Homo sapiens: one gene and its partner. The protein of the gene in region 1 interacts with the protein of each later gene in a pairwise test. Each region holds a gene or a part of one and is shown in the gene's direction. Other genes may lie near its edges.

Region 1 (7,674 bases):
GCGGGTGAGGTGCTCCTGTCCACCGCGGTCAGCTGCATTATTTCTGGCCGTCAGTCCATGCCTTTCTGGGAACCTTTCCTGTCCCTTGCACGTGGGGCTGATGCAACGGTCCCAAACCCACAGACGCTCTGGGTTTAGAGGGCTCTGTGGCTGCTTCTCAAGACGAGTGGCTGAAACAGCACCAAGTGCTCCTTGAGCTGCACAAGGGAACCCTGGAGCCCATGCCCCCTTCCGAGCCCACTGGGCTGCTCTGCGTTCTGACCTTCCTGTTTTACACGTGGTGGTGGCATTTGCTCTGCTCCTGGTCCCCACCCCCATTTGTCCTCAGTGGACTATGTGTCAAGACAGAAGCATCCTTGAATGGGTCACTGCGTTTGCCTCCCCAAAGCACCTACATTCAGGTCGTGATGACTCAGGAAGGGTCTTCGAGCCTCTCTCAGGGAGGCAGGAGGAAGTTCTGTGCAGAGTGAGGGGCGGCACCCATGGCAGCTGCAGACCGAGAGACAGCTGGGCAGCAGGGTGCTCCTGGGAGGTGTGCGGCCCTGGGCCACCCACGGGTGCTGATTAGCACAACTTCCTACTTCCTTCCTCCCTCGGACTGTCTGCTGCTTGAGTAATCGAGTGACAATACCAGAAAACTGAGCGGTGATGCAGACCCTATAACCTGCATGTGCCACATCAACTCTGAGTTTTCTGTGGGGCAGTGAGTTAGTGCAAAGTAGGCAGTGTTATGGCCTTACCTGCCCCTCTGCACTTTGGGAGGCTGAGGCAGGCAAATCACTTGAGGTTAGGAGTTTGAGACCAGCCTGGCCAACATGGTGAAACCTCAGCTCTACTAAAAATACAAAAATTAGCCGGGCATGGTGGCGTGCACCTGTAATCCTAGCACTTTGGGAGGCCAAGAGAGATGGGTTGCCTGAAGTCAGGAGTTCGAGACCAGCTTGGCCAACATGGTGAAACCCTGTCTCTACTAAAAATACAAAAATTAGCCAAGTGTGGTGGCATGCACCTGTAATCCCAGCTACTCGGGAGGCTGAGGGAGGAGGATCGTTTAAGCCTGGGAGGTGTAGGCTGTAGTGAGCTGAGGTTGAACCACTGTACTCCAGCCTGGGTGATGGGAGAGAAACCCTGTCTCAAAATAAAATAAAATAAAATAAAATAACTTAACATAACATAAAATAAAATAAGATAAGATAAAATAAAATGAAATGTGCCCCTCTGACCTTCACCCCTCCCATCTGGTGAACTTGTACTCATCCCTCAAGACCTAGTCAGATTTCACCCCACTCTGCCAGCTCTAATCATACTGCACCACAATTCATGCTTGAAGGCTTGTTCCTCCTCACCAGCCTGTGAGCTCTGAGGGCACGGGCTCTGCCTGATGTTCTGGGGCTCCCACATCTGCAGGCCGAGTGCCTGACCTGGGACCCATGCTCAGCTTGTGCTTGTTATATGCACGTGACAATGACCACGCATCCGGGAGGTGAAAGGTTGCAGCCCCGGCATGGGGGAGCAGACTGTCTTCTTCTTGGATCCATCCAGGAGCCCCTGCACAAGGCCCAGGGTGGGAGGGATTTGCAGGGCTCCTGGGACGGCCCACACCGCCACACCGCACACAGCTGACGAGGCTGCTGCAGGGATGCGGGATGCGGCTCCCAAGGAGGAAAGGGAGAGGCTCCTTTAGAGCCAGTCCTGCTCACCCCCAGGTCTTGGGTTGCCCAGGGGAGCCACCTGTCTGGGTTGGGCCCGATGCCCACTACCGCACGGCCTACAGCTCTGACAACAGCTCTGCTTTTTCTCTGGAACTGGAACTCCCCCAGGGGAATAGGGTGGCTGGGGAAGGCTGTGGGAATGCAGGCTCTGGAAGGCAGGTTGGGCTCTCCCATGCCATCCTCTGTTCCTGTACAGAGCCCAGGGCTCCTGGGGAGGGGGCTCCTAGAACAGAGAGAGGGGACACACACGGGCCTCCCCATTGACCTCTCCAGAGGTGCAGCCCAAATCCCCCTTCTCTGAGAAGCCTGTGCGTCTCCACCTGACAGGACCCAGCTCTGGCCCCCTTGCCACAGCCTTTGCTCCTACCAGAGCCGGGACCAGGAATCCTCTCCTCTGCCATCATGGTTGATCCAGCACACCCGGCAGGTGGTCAGTGTGTGTCCCAGGCACCTGGCTGGGCTGTGCAGCACCACTTCATGCTGTCCTGTGGGGTGAGCACCCTGTGACATGTAGGGAAACTGAGGTACAGATGGGACGTGACTTGCCCAAGGTCAGGCAGCACAGAACCTAGTCTTGGCTTCACCATCTTAACTCTGACATGATCCCGTCTCCCTTTGCGGGGGGACTCTTCAAGGACAAGAATGTGTCACCTTTGTTATTCCTTCCCCAGCCCTAAACCCTGGGTGTAGGCAGTAGGAGCTCAGTCAACATTCACTAGTTAAACGGAAGCAAACCCCAGCAGGGTTCTCGGTGCTGGCCGCAGAGAAGAATCACAGGCGACAGAACCACCTGTCAGGGCGGGGCCCAGGCATTGATATTCTCCCCACTCCAGGCAATTTTGAGTGCAGCAGGTGGAGACCACAGCACCTGCAGAAGCTCCTTGCGGGGGTCCTTCCCCAGCAGGTCATGAGGGCCGGAGGGGCAGCAGTCTGTTCCTGGGGTGTTTGCACCCTCCTGGAACTCAGCCCTGCACCACGACCTGGCCTGGCCTCTGGGTACTAGGAGCAGTGGGAAGGCAGGGAGATCTCACCAGATCCCCCAGGGAGATCTCACCAGATCCCCCAGGGATTTCCCCTACAATGACCTTTTTAATAACATGAAAATCCTGCTGTCCATTGATGAACCTGGGTCCGCTGTCTCCCAGAAAAAGTGAGTGCCCCGAAAACAAGGCAGGCAACGCTCTTTCCTTCTTCCTCCTTCGCTGGCCTCAGCGGGAGTGGCACATCAGAGGCCAGGGGCCCTCAAATCCATCCACAAAGGGCGTGCTGAGCGCAAGGGCGGGGCCTGGGAGTCACAGGGCAGGACACATCCTGGTGCTCAGCACGTACGCCATCGAGCTCCCATGGGTCACTCGGGGAAGGGCAGTTTGTGGATGCACCCTTGGAGGCTCAAGGCCGCCCTGCACACACCACCGGGGACCCCAGCTGCAGGCTAAATCCAAGCAGCCAGGCGCTCCCATTTCTCGGGGTGATAAACCAAGTCCACCCTTCAGACAGAGGCTCCTGGAAGGGCCAGTGGGGGTCATCAAAATGCCTCCCTGGAAAAGAAACACGGAGAACACAAAATCTAGGGGCCCGTTTTCCTGGAATGAGATTAGTCTCTTGCCCACTACCAGCCAGTCCACTGCAGGAGGTTGGGGGGTTGGGGGATGCTGCGGATGCCGAGGGCGGAGGCTTAGGGTCCTGGGAGTGGGTTAAATACCAGCTATACCAGGGACACTGGAGTAACCTCTGATAGGCACCGGAAATGTTGAGTCTTAGTTTCTTCCTCTGGAAAATGGATAGAATCATCGCTGTCTCATCTGATATGTTGTTATAAAACAATTCCTGAGATGTAGTCTTTAGTTTTTAAAAGAGCACGCTGGGCAAAGGTGGAGAGTCAGTTCCTGTTTGTGTTAAAAATGTGGCCGAGTGCAGTGGCTCATGCCTGTAATCCTGACACTTTGGGAGGCCAAGGAAGGCAGATCACTTGAGTCCAGGAGTCTGAGACCAGCCTGGCCAACATGGCGACACCTGGTCTCTAAAAAAATACAAAATATTAGCTGGACACATGCCTGTGGCCCAGCTACTTAGGAGGCTGAGGTGGGAGGATCACTTGAGCCCCGCGAGGGCGGGGGTCTCAGTGAGTTGAGATTGTGCCACTGCACTCCAGCCTGGGTAACAGAGCAAGACCCTGTCTCCAAAAAAAAAAAACAAAAAAAAAACAAAAAAAAAACAAAACAAACAAACAAACAAAAACAAACCAAAAAAACGTGCTTAGATCCAGAGAGAAAAATTCTGAAAGGATACCTAAAAAAGTGTTCACAATAGATCAATAGATGCCTCTGGATAGGAAAGGCTCTTTTGTATTATTTGATTTTAAAAATCAATTATGTGTACCATGTTTTTACTAACATATTTTCAATCAATTCATTTCATCCACTTATTAAAATGTAGTTACTAATTTTTAGGGGAGAAAGCAAAAAGGAAAGACAAGGAATCTCTGTGTTTCAGGAGTTGTGAGAGAGCCGCAGGGTCCTGACTCACTCAGAGCTGCCTGTCTCCGAGGCCGATCTGGGATGAAGCAGCCTGGGGCTCTCTTGTCATGGGACCAGGGGTGTTCTGAGGGCTTCTGGCTGGGAGGCTGAGATGGAACGGACACCACACCCTGGTCCTGCCACCCCACATGGCTCCTGCACACTACACCAGGCCAGGCTAGGAGGGCAATTGACACACATCCGCTCCCCAGTAGAGGACCCGGAACCAGAACTGGAATCCGCCCTTACCGCTTGCTGCCAAAACAGTGGGGGCTGAACTGACCTCTCCCCTTTGGGAGAGAAAAACTGTCTGGGAGCTTGACAAAGGCATGCAGGAGAGAACAGGAGCAGCCACAGCCAGGAGGGAGAGCCTTCCCCAAGCAAACAATCCAGAGCAGCTGTGCAAACAACGGTGCATAAATGAGGCCTCCTGGACCATGAAGCGAGTCCTGAGCTGCGTCCCGGAGCCCACGGTGGTCATGGCTGCCAGAGCGCTCTGCATGCTGGGGCTGGTCCTGGCCTTGCTGTCCTCCAGCTCTGCTGAGGAGTACGTGGGCCTGTGTGAGTACTGCCCTGACTGCCCCGGTGGCAGGGTGGGCGTGAAGGGAAGGGATCCAGGATAAGGGGGGATTCTGCATTCATTTAATAATGGCCACCTGTCACATATACACTTTTTCCTGCGCTAGCCCTTTGAAGTGGGTCTTTATTGTCCCCATTTCACAGACAAGGAAACCGAGGCTCAGAGAAAGTTAACAACTTATCCAAGGCAGCCCTGCCCAGTCTGTGTTGAAATCAGGGTTTGAGCCTGAGCCCATCCCCTATGACCCCATAGCCATCTTTGCTGGAGATTTCTAAATTACAATATAGGTCTTTATGCATTGTTCCACATTTACAAAGAAAAAGGAAAGATGCAGGAGAAAAACCCTGACTTCAGAACACTGTCAATACCGGCAGGCACAAGGTTCATTTAGCCATTGCATAGCAACCCTGCCATGGGGTGTGGCTGCTCCATTAACCCAAGTTTGAAGGAATGAGGGCATGGCTTTTATCTGGGTGTCTTCTGAGCAGGGTCAAAGGCAGTGGTTCCCGAACTTGCAGCCCATTAGAATCACCTGGAGAGCTTTAAAAATCCTAATGCTTGGGGCACACCAGTTACATCAGGGCATCTCCAGGCAAGATCCAGGCCTCAGCTGTTTTGTTTTGAGATAGCCTTGCTTTGTCACTCACTGCTGGAGTGCAGTGGCACAATCTCAGCTCACTGCAACCTCCGCCTCCTGGGTTCAAGCAATTCTTGTGCCTCGGCTTCAAGTAGCTGGGATTACAGGCATGCACCACCATGCCCAGCTAATTTTTTGGATTTTTAGTAGAGATGGAGTTTCGCTATGTTGGCCAAGCTGGTCTCAAACTCCTGGCCTCAAGTGATCCTCCTGCCTTGGCCTCCCAAAGTGCTGGAATTACAGGTGTAAGCCACCATGCCCAGCCAACGTCAGTCATTTTTAAAGCTCTGCAGCTGATTCCAGTGTGAGCGAAGTTTGGATGCCAGGAGGATAAGCAATTACGGACTGGGAGCAAGAGAAGGGAATGTAAGACACTGCACGTGATTGCCATTTTCCTAAGGAAATACTCAGTTCGTTAATGAAACGCAGTGAACTTCTGCTGCACATACAGACATAGAGGCTTGCCTGAAACATGAAAATATTGGGGACTGAAGGATGTCCCGGGAGGGTGGGACATGCTCAACAATTCAGGAAGGGGAGATGCAGAAAAAAGTGAAAAGCAGGCAGCATGCGTTGCAATGATCTCTATGGCGTGTGCCTCTCCTGTCACGGTTTTCATTTAAAACAAAGGGGCAAGGTTTTGTTGGTCAAACAATGAAGGGTAACTTTGTTTCTGGGTTCAAGGGACCCCAGATTCCCCAGGGGTTCCTGCCAGCTGGAAGGTACCCAGGTCCGTATGTGACTTCCCGAGAAGGTGATAAGAGCGTGCCAAGGAGAAAGACACTTAGGCAAATGGCCAGAGTCCCCGAGCTGAGCATTTAACAGACTGCCTCTCTTTAAATATTCACAGGGAAAGTGCATCTTCCTAAGGGCGAGGGTTTCAGCAGTGGTTGAACTCGGCGGGGTGGGGCGGAGCGGGAGGATGCAAACTTGCAAAGTGAAGCAAACACACTCACCGCAGCCCAGCAAGGGCTCTGGCAGCTGACAGGGCTTTGTCTGGGACAGCTGCAAACCAGTGTGCCGTGCCAGCCAAGGACAGGGTGGACTGCGGCTACCCCCATGTCACCCCCAAGGAGTGCAACAACCGGGGCTGCTGCTTTGACTCCAGGATCCCTGGAGTGCCTTGGTGTTTCAAGCCCCTGCAGGAAGCAGGTAAGGCCCCAGTGGCATCGTGGTCTGGGCCCAGCCCCATAAGGCAGGGGGTCTCAGGGCCTCCCTGTCCTTTCTGGGCTGGAGATGGAGGCACAAGGACCCCAGGAAGCCACACACACACACCTGTTCCAAGGCCTCAGAGCAGAGGCTTCACACTTAGGGCAGCCATGGCCAGGGGCTGTCCTCTTCTGTCCCCTTTATGTAAAACATAAAAGCAATTGTTTCAAAAAGGTGTTCAAAATGATGGCATCGCATAGAGGGAACTGATTTAGTAACTATTCTTGAGAGAAGTGGAAACGCATAGGTGTGGAAAGCCGGGCCGACTTTTGGGCTGTTTTTGCAAATCGGCCCCCCAGAGTCTTGTCATTTGTGGCATCCCCTACACAGACGGCAGGCGGTCCCAGCCCTAGACGTCAGGCCTCGGTGCCACACCCCACCTCCCCCACTCTGCCCCCCACAAGGGTCATCTCCTCTCCCTCTCTCTGCCGTGGTGGAGGGCAGGTGCAGGGCAACCACCCTGGGGGTTCCCTCCCCAGGGGCGGAGAGCCTGCGTGCTGTGCGGGTAACAGATGGCCCTGCACACGGGTTTGCCACCCTGGCTCCACCAGGCTTAGCTGCCCCACATCGTGGGTGGGGCGATTGGCTATAAGCCATCTGCCATGTCCAAGTGCCAGCTCAGCCCCCACGAAGGCCGCACCTGCGTGAGGTACCTTCCTGGAACCAGCATCCAGAGGGGCCTCTCTTGCCCTTTGTCCTAGGGTGAAATGCGGGAGGCTGAGTCCTGCTGGCCCCGGCTCCCTGATCAATGATGGGCCCCTGCCCAGGGCCTCCCTTCACCCTCCCCAGCAAGTCCAGGGTAGGGGTGGGGGTGGGGGTCCAGAGAAGGCCAGGAGAGAGAGGGGTCTGGCTACTGTCCACTGCCGGTCCTGTTCCTTCAGCTCCACTGGAACTACACTCTCCTCTGAGTGCCAGCCATGGCCCTGCCAAGGCCCATCTCGCTTGTTATCTGCCTGATCCCTGGGTCCCACTATCTTGCTTAGCAACCCGAGGTGGGAATCTTGGCTATTCCCCCATGTG
Region 2 (6,900 bases), on another chromosome or scaffold:
TGTCTCTACTAAAAATACAAAAATTAGCTGGGCATGGTTGTGCACGCCTGTAGTCCCAGCTACTCAGGAGGCTGAGGCAGGAGAATTGCTTGAACCTGGGAGGCAGAGGTTGCAATGAGCTGAGATCGCACCACTGCACTCCAGTCTAGTGACAGAGCAAAACTCTGTCACAAAAAAAAAAAAGAATTTTTTTTGCCAAATATGGAATTATTGGCTGTAATTTTTTTTAATTGATCACATTAAATGTATCACTTACTATATCCTCCAAAGACTCTCGTAAGAAATCTGTGGATCACCTTGTTCAGGATCCCTTGTACCCCATGATTCTTGTTTCTCTTCCTACTTTTTGTTTTGTTTTGTTTTGTTTTTTATTTATTTATTTATTTATTTTTAATTTTATTATTATTATACTTTAAGTTTTAGGGTACATGTGCACAATGTGCAGGTTTGTTACATATGTATACATGTGCCATGTTGGTGTGCTGCACCCATTAACTCGTCATTTAGCATTAGGTATATCTCCTAATGCTATCCCTCCCCCCTCCCCCCACACCACAACAGGCCCCGGTGTGTGATGTTCCCCTTCCTGTGTCCATGTGTTCTCATTGTTCAATTCCCACTATGAGTGAGAACATGTGGTGTTTGGTTTTTTTTGTCCTTGCGATAGTTTGCTGAAAATGATGGTTTCCAGTTTCATCCATGTCCCTACAAAGGACGTGAACTCATCATTTTTTATGACTGCATAGTATTCCATGGTGTATATGTGCCACATTTTCTTAATCCAGTCTATCGTTGTTGGTCTTTTAGGTTGGTTCCAAGTCTTTGCTATTGTGAATAGTGCTGCAATAAACATACGTGTGCATGTGTCTTTATAGCAGCATGATTTATAATCCTTTGGGTATATACCCAGTAATGGGATGGCTGGGTCAAATGGTATTTCTAGTTCAAGATCCCTGAGGAATCACCACACTGACTTCCACAATGGTTGAACTAGTTAACAGTCCCACCAACAGTGTAAAAGTGTTCCTATTTCTCCACATCCTCTCCAGCACCTGTTGTTTCTTGACTTTTTAATGATCGCCATTCTAACTGGTGTGAGATATTTTTTTTTGGGAGGGGGGATTGAGTTTTGCTCTTGTTGCCCAAGCTGGAGTGCAATGGTGCAATCTCGACTCACTGCAACCTCCACCTCCTGGGTTCAAGCTATTTTCCGGGATTAGCCTCCTGAGTAGCTGGAATTACAGGTGTGCACCCCCATGCCTGGCTAATTTTTTGTATTTTTAGTAGAAATAGGGTTTCACCATGTTAGCCAGGCTGGTCTCGAACTCCTGACCTCAGGTGATCCGCCTGCCTCGGCTCCCAAAATCTCTTGCTATTTAAAGATTATCTCTTTGTCTGGCTTTTAGAGTTGGATGATAACACATACAGATCTGGGTCTCTTAGAGTTTATACTATTTGCAGTTCTTTAAGTGGCCTGAATTTGTAGATTGTTGTCTTTAACCAATTTGAAAAAGTTTTGATGTTTTTATTCTCCAAATAATCTGTCTACCACCATGGGTTTGCACTTCTCCTTCTGGGAATCCAATACTATCATACTGGTCGGCTTGAAGCTGTCCCATAAGTCCCTTAGGACCGGTTCACATTTCTTTATTCTTGTTTCGTGTCCTTAGACTCAGGAACTTCAAATGCGCTATCCCTATGTGTATTGATTATATCTTCATCCTGCTCAAAGTTGCTATTGAAACACCCTCTGGTGAGTTCTTCATTCAGGTACTTTTTTTGCTCCAATTTTTTCCTTTTTTATAATTTCTATATTACTACTGTATCGTGATTTTCTTATTGTTTTCAGATTTTCTGTAGTTCTTAGTCCATATTTTTCATTAGCAATTTTAGCATATTTAAGCAGCTGTTTAAATGCTTCTCTACTAATTTTAATGCCTGTGATTCTTCAGGAAAGATTTCTACTAATTTATTTTCTTTCTCATAATGAACTGTGATTTCTTGTTTCCTTGTATGCCTTGTCATTTTATTTTATTTTTTTGAGCCAGAGTCCTGCTCTGTCGCCAGGCTGGAGTACAGTGGTGCCATCTCGGCTCACTGCAACCTCTGCCTCCTGGGTTCAAGCGATTCCCCTGCTTTAGCCTCCCGAGCAGCTGGGACTACAGGCGTCCGCCACCACGTCCGACTATTTGTTGTTGTTGTTGTTGTTGTTGTTCTTGTTGTTGTTGTTCTTATTTTAGTAGAGACAGGATTTCACCATGTTGACCAGGATGGTCTCCATCTCCTGCCCTCGTGATCTGGCCGCCTCGGCCTCCCAAAGTGCTGGGATTACCACTGCTCCAGGCCTGTATGCCTTGTTATTTTATCTAATTGGGCATTTGAAAAAATAAACATCTTTTTTACTGTATATAGATTTGTTCTATGTCATGACAGTCATTAACTTATATGTGTGGCAGGTTCTCAGTCAAGGCATCAGCCCTACATAAAACCTCAAGTCCTTCTTAGTTTGTTTCTGAACATGCACCTACGTGGACTGTGTTTGCCCTTTTATGTATCCCCAAATAACCAATGGCTTTTGAATTGCTTACTATTATGAAATTTCGCATCCCAGTTTCTCCTCAATGGCTTAGATGGACTATTGCATGTCTCTTCCCCTGGCCTTTTGCCTATAACATCTGTATGTGTATAGTCACCCTGAATCTCTACTGAGCCACTCCAGAAATAAATAAGTTTATTTCAGTCAATTTTAGGTATTTTCTGATGTTTCCATGAGTTATATGGGAATCTTAGAATCCACCATCTTGTTGAAATTACTCTGTGAAAAATTTCAATATCTTTATAATATTACATTTATGTCAATGATAACAATTTACCTATTTTTCAATTTCTGTTTGTTTTATGAAAAAGCAAATAGAAGCAATCAGGGCACTGCAAGTTGTGACTACTCCAAGATGTGAATCATGGATCATGCAAATTACAATCATGTTTTAACCTGACCTCCAAAGGGAGAATAAAGTAAAAATTATCCCATGCGAGGATTATTCACCAGTTTATATGTCATTAGTTACCAGTTTTTCTTTATGAATAATGTTTAGCAATATTATAAAGTATATCTAATAGTTATCATATTTTGGCTTGTTACTTTTTGGTAGCAATTCATAAAAATGGCTGGAAAAGACAAATAAGGCACTGTTTGCATGTTACAAATTATATCCAAAGTCCAAAAGCTGTTAATAAGAAATCTTCCAATAAAACCACATCATATTTTCTTTTTTATTTACACCCACATCAGGATTACAACTTTATCAGGACTGCACCTTGATCAGGAAGGGATGTTTCTCTTACAAGGCTAATAAGAAAGGAACAATAAATTTGCTGATGAAAAAAGTAATGCATTAAAAAATTTTAACTTTAATTTTTAATTGAGGGCAATATTTTAAAGAAATGCTCATTAGTCATTCCTTTAAATTGTGTGTGTGAGAGAGAGAAAAATGAAAATTAGTCATTTCAAATGCTGCAAGATGCAGAAGGAACTCATCATCATGACACAAACAAAAAAGAGCTGTGCCGCTAGAGGTTTCTGTATTCTTATGTAAAGTCACAATTTGTTCTACAAATCTCTTTGAGTAATTTATGTCTCATATATAGAGATCTGGAATAGCAAAAATACTTCAGAGGAAATTAATGAGTGTATCATGACCACATAATAATTTACTTATGAATTTTCTTAGGTAAGAAACGGTTGAACTGGATGCAATTTTTATCACAGCTTGTGTAAGACTGCCTCTGTCCCTCCTCTCACATGCCATTGGTTAACCAGCAGACAGTGTGCTCAGGGGCGTTGCCAGCTCATTGCTCTTATAGCCTGTGAGGGAGGAAGAAAGAAACATTTGCCAGCCAGGCTAGTGACAGAAATGGATTCGAAATATCAGTGTGTGAAGCTGAATGATGGTCACTTCATGCCTGTCCTGGGATTTGGCACCTATGCGCCTGCAGAGGTAACAATAATATTTTTAGTGTTGAGAGTTCAAAGGAGCTAGAGTAAGTGGAAGCTGACCAGGTTGTCAGGCTTGTGTTCCTATGTTACTCTGCATGACTCCCCTTTAAACGTCAGTCTTTGTTCTGCAATGCCATCTTGTCACAGGGTCATCTACTGCTTATTTGTGGCACTGTTTTGTCTTCTGTTTATGTTTATTTCACAGCTTGTCAGAGTCTATACAACTCAGCAGAAAGAACACGGCTTGCCTGCTCCCTCTCTTGAAGATTGATTGCAATGGGAGTGGTTTCTCTGTTTCTTTGTATAGTCGAACAGATATTTACTTCTTCCAAGAAGATACAATTCAGAGGAATTTTTATGGCAAAAGTTAGTGGAGACGGGGTGGATGAAATCTGTTGGGAGAGTATCACTGTTCTGATGGGCGGCCTTGAGCACCACACTGTAATACTAGACCTGGCCTAAAGAGAATTTCTCATGTACTATTCTCACCTCTGGGAAAATTACCTGAAACGATAAAATATCCTCATTTTAAGAAAAAAAAAATACTAGAACCTAACAAGGAAAATTTAAATTCTTTTTCTTTGTTAATATGGGTCAAATTTGTATCAAAATATTGTAACAGAAAAATTTCTTGTTTCTCTGACAGGAAAATTAATGGAATAGATTTTCTTTTCTAGACTTAGCTATTTCTACACTGGAAGAAAACTTGTATCTCAAGACTGTCTTGGGAATACAATGTGTGTGAATAGGGACTAGTTACATAAAATTTGGGTTTCACATTTCTGATCTATACAATATAAGGATTTACAAAGGGACATTTTGAAGACCATTGACAGGAGTGGTTTACTTTGTAATATAAATTGACATGGAGAGGAAGTAAAGATGAGGATACCACTAAAGCTCCAGCTTTGGTAAGCCTTTGAGTACTCATACAGCAAAGAAATGATCAAGGATGGTATGAGGAGAGGGCTGTGAGACCCAGTATCTAGTTCCTTGTAATTCTATGGGAAAAAGAAAGCCTCTGAAATACTTTCCAGATAGGAAAACAGTTTGCTTTGTTTCTGTTTTTGTCATTTAAAAGATATACTTTCAAATCTGTATCCAAATTTGTTACGTAAGTCAATAATTGTAAATTTCACTGCAATCATATGTTTCCTAAAAGAGTTGCCTTGAACTTATGGAACTGAACCCCATTTTGCTAATCACTTACTCCTTGCAGTCTATTTCTTATACAAATCAATATCCTTAGAGTATACATTTTTACACCTACTATTTAGTTCTGTCATGCCGACAGAATGGCTAATGGCTGTGTAGAAAAGACTTGACATAATAGACTGCTATCCATAGACAGGCCTGTTTCCCATATAAACCTGCTGGTATCTGATAAGGTGGATTTCTCACTATTTCCTAACTGATAAGAATGGTGGCTGTAAGTAACTGCTTGTGCAAACTGCGGAGTTTCTGTGCACCTGCTTTCCTTTTGGAGACTTTTGGAAGTTTTGTGCCTGCGAAGCAGAGTGAGTCAATGTAACCAGTCCCAGACAAAATCTTAGTAATGGAGTATGTAGAGAGCATCTCTTGTAGACAACAGTTCACATACATTGACAAAATATGATTCCGGGTAAAGTCAGTGCATTCTGTGCAATATGGTGGGAGAGGAATCACAGGAGCTTACACTGTATTCCTTCATATTTCCTTCCATGTGGCTATTTCCTCGTGTTAATTTCTTTTTTTGTTTGTTTGGTTTTTGTTTTGTTTTTCTGAGATGGAGTCTCGCTTTGTCGTCCAGGCTGGAGTGCAGTGGTGCGACCTCAGCTCACTGCAAGCTCCGCCTCCTGGGTTCACGTCATTCTCCTGCCCCAGCCTCCCCAGTAGCTGGGACTACAGGCGCCTGCCACCATGCCCGGCTAATTTTTTCTATTTTTAGTAGAGATGGAGTTGTTAACCAGGATGGCCTTGATCTCCTGATCTCATGATCCGCCCAGCTCGGCCTCCCAAAGTGCTGGGATTACAGGTGTGAGCCGCCACGCCTGGCCATTCCTTGTGTTAATTTTACCATACTAAAAATAATTAAGATTATATCTATAACTATAGGTTGCATCCTGTTAATTTTTCCAAAAAATGACTGAACCTGAAATTGTTTTGGGGACACTTCCAAACTAGTGGTCAAGCAGTGATTTTTCTGGGACTGCAGAAGTTCCTGCTGTGCCCAACCTTTATTACTAACTGGGAAAGACCCAGGGAGACTGGGATGGGCTCATGATTCTACATACAGAACTCATCCAAGAAAGGAGGAAAAGCTGATTTTTGTGAACGTCGCTACTTGTGCCTGAACTAACTCTCAGGCACATTAGTCAGAAAATACTACCTATGGTTACTCCCCCAGGTTCCTAAAAGTAAAGCTTTAGAGGCCACCAAATTGGCAATTGAAGCTGGCTTCCGCCATATTGATTCTGCTCATTTATACAATAATGAGGAGCAGGTTGGACTGGCCATCCGAAGCAAGATTGCAGATGGCAGTGTGAAGAGAGAAGACATATTCTACACTTCAAAGGTACTGTGCCTATGATGAGCTTGTGTGCACATGTATTTATTGTGATTGTGTGGAGGTGGCAGTTCTATGACTGGATCCATAGTATAGGGTGAATTGTGCTTATTTATTACGATTTATTCACACTTACTCATGTATTAAAACTAATATCAAAGGCAGGAAGTGAAGATGGCTTTCTCATCTTTGCAGTGTTCCAATTCATGCCTTCAAAGTGCCTTTACTTTTTGAGCTCAGCACAGATCAATATGGTTTAACATAGACTATAGAATCAGAAAAAATCCTAATCATATTATATTATTTCTTACCTCCTGGGTGAGTTTCTTACACTTGTTATGATTCTCAGTTTCCATTA

Evidence for each region. Proteins that work in one complex are often made in the same cells at the same time.
Region 2: the proteins of TFF3 (region 1) and AKR1C1 interact in a two-hybrid assay, tested with the Homo sapiens proteins (one study listed by BioGRID).

The regions. Positions count from the first base shown.
Region 1 is NC_000021.9:42,312,408-42,320,081, reverse strand, and holds the start of TFF3 (trefoil factor 3 precursor), read left to right. Parts: upstream 1-4,672; 5' UTR 4,673-4,707; coding exon 4,708-4,789; intron 4,790-6,450; coding exon 6,451-6,597; intron 6,598-7,674. UniProt on the Homo sapiens protein: Involved in the maintenance and repair of the intestinal mucosa. Promotes the mobility of epithelial cells in healing processes (motogen).
Region 2 is NC_000010.11:4,959,531-4,966,430, forward strand, and holds the start of AKR1C1 (aldo-keto reductase family 1 member C1), read left to right. Parts: upstream 1-3,884; 5' UTR 3,885-3,914; coding exon 3,915-3,998; intron 3,999-6,383; coding exon 6,384-6,551; intron 6,552-6,900. UniProt on the Homo sapiens protein: Cytosolic aldo-keto reductase that catalyzes the NADH and NADPH-dependent reduction of ketosteroids to hydroxysteroids.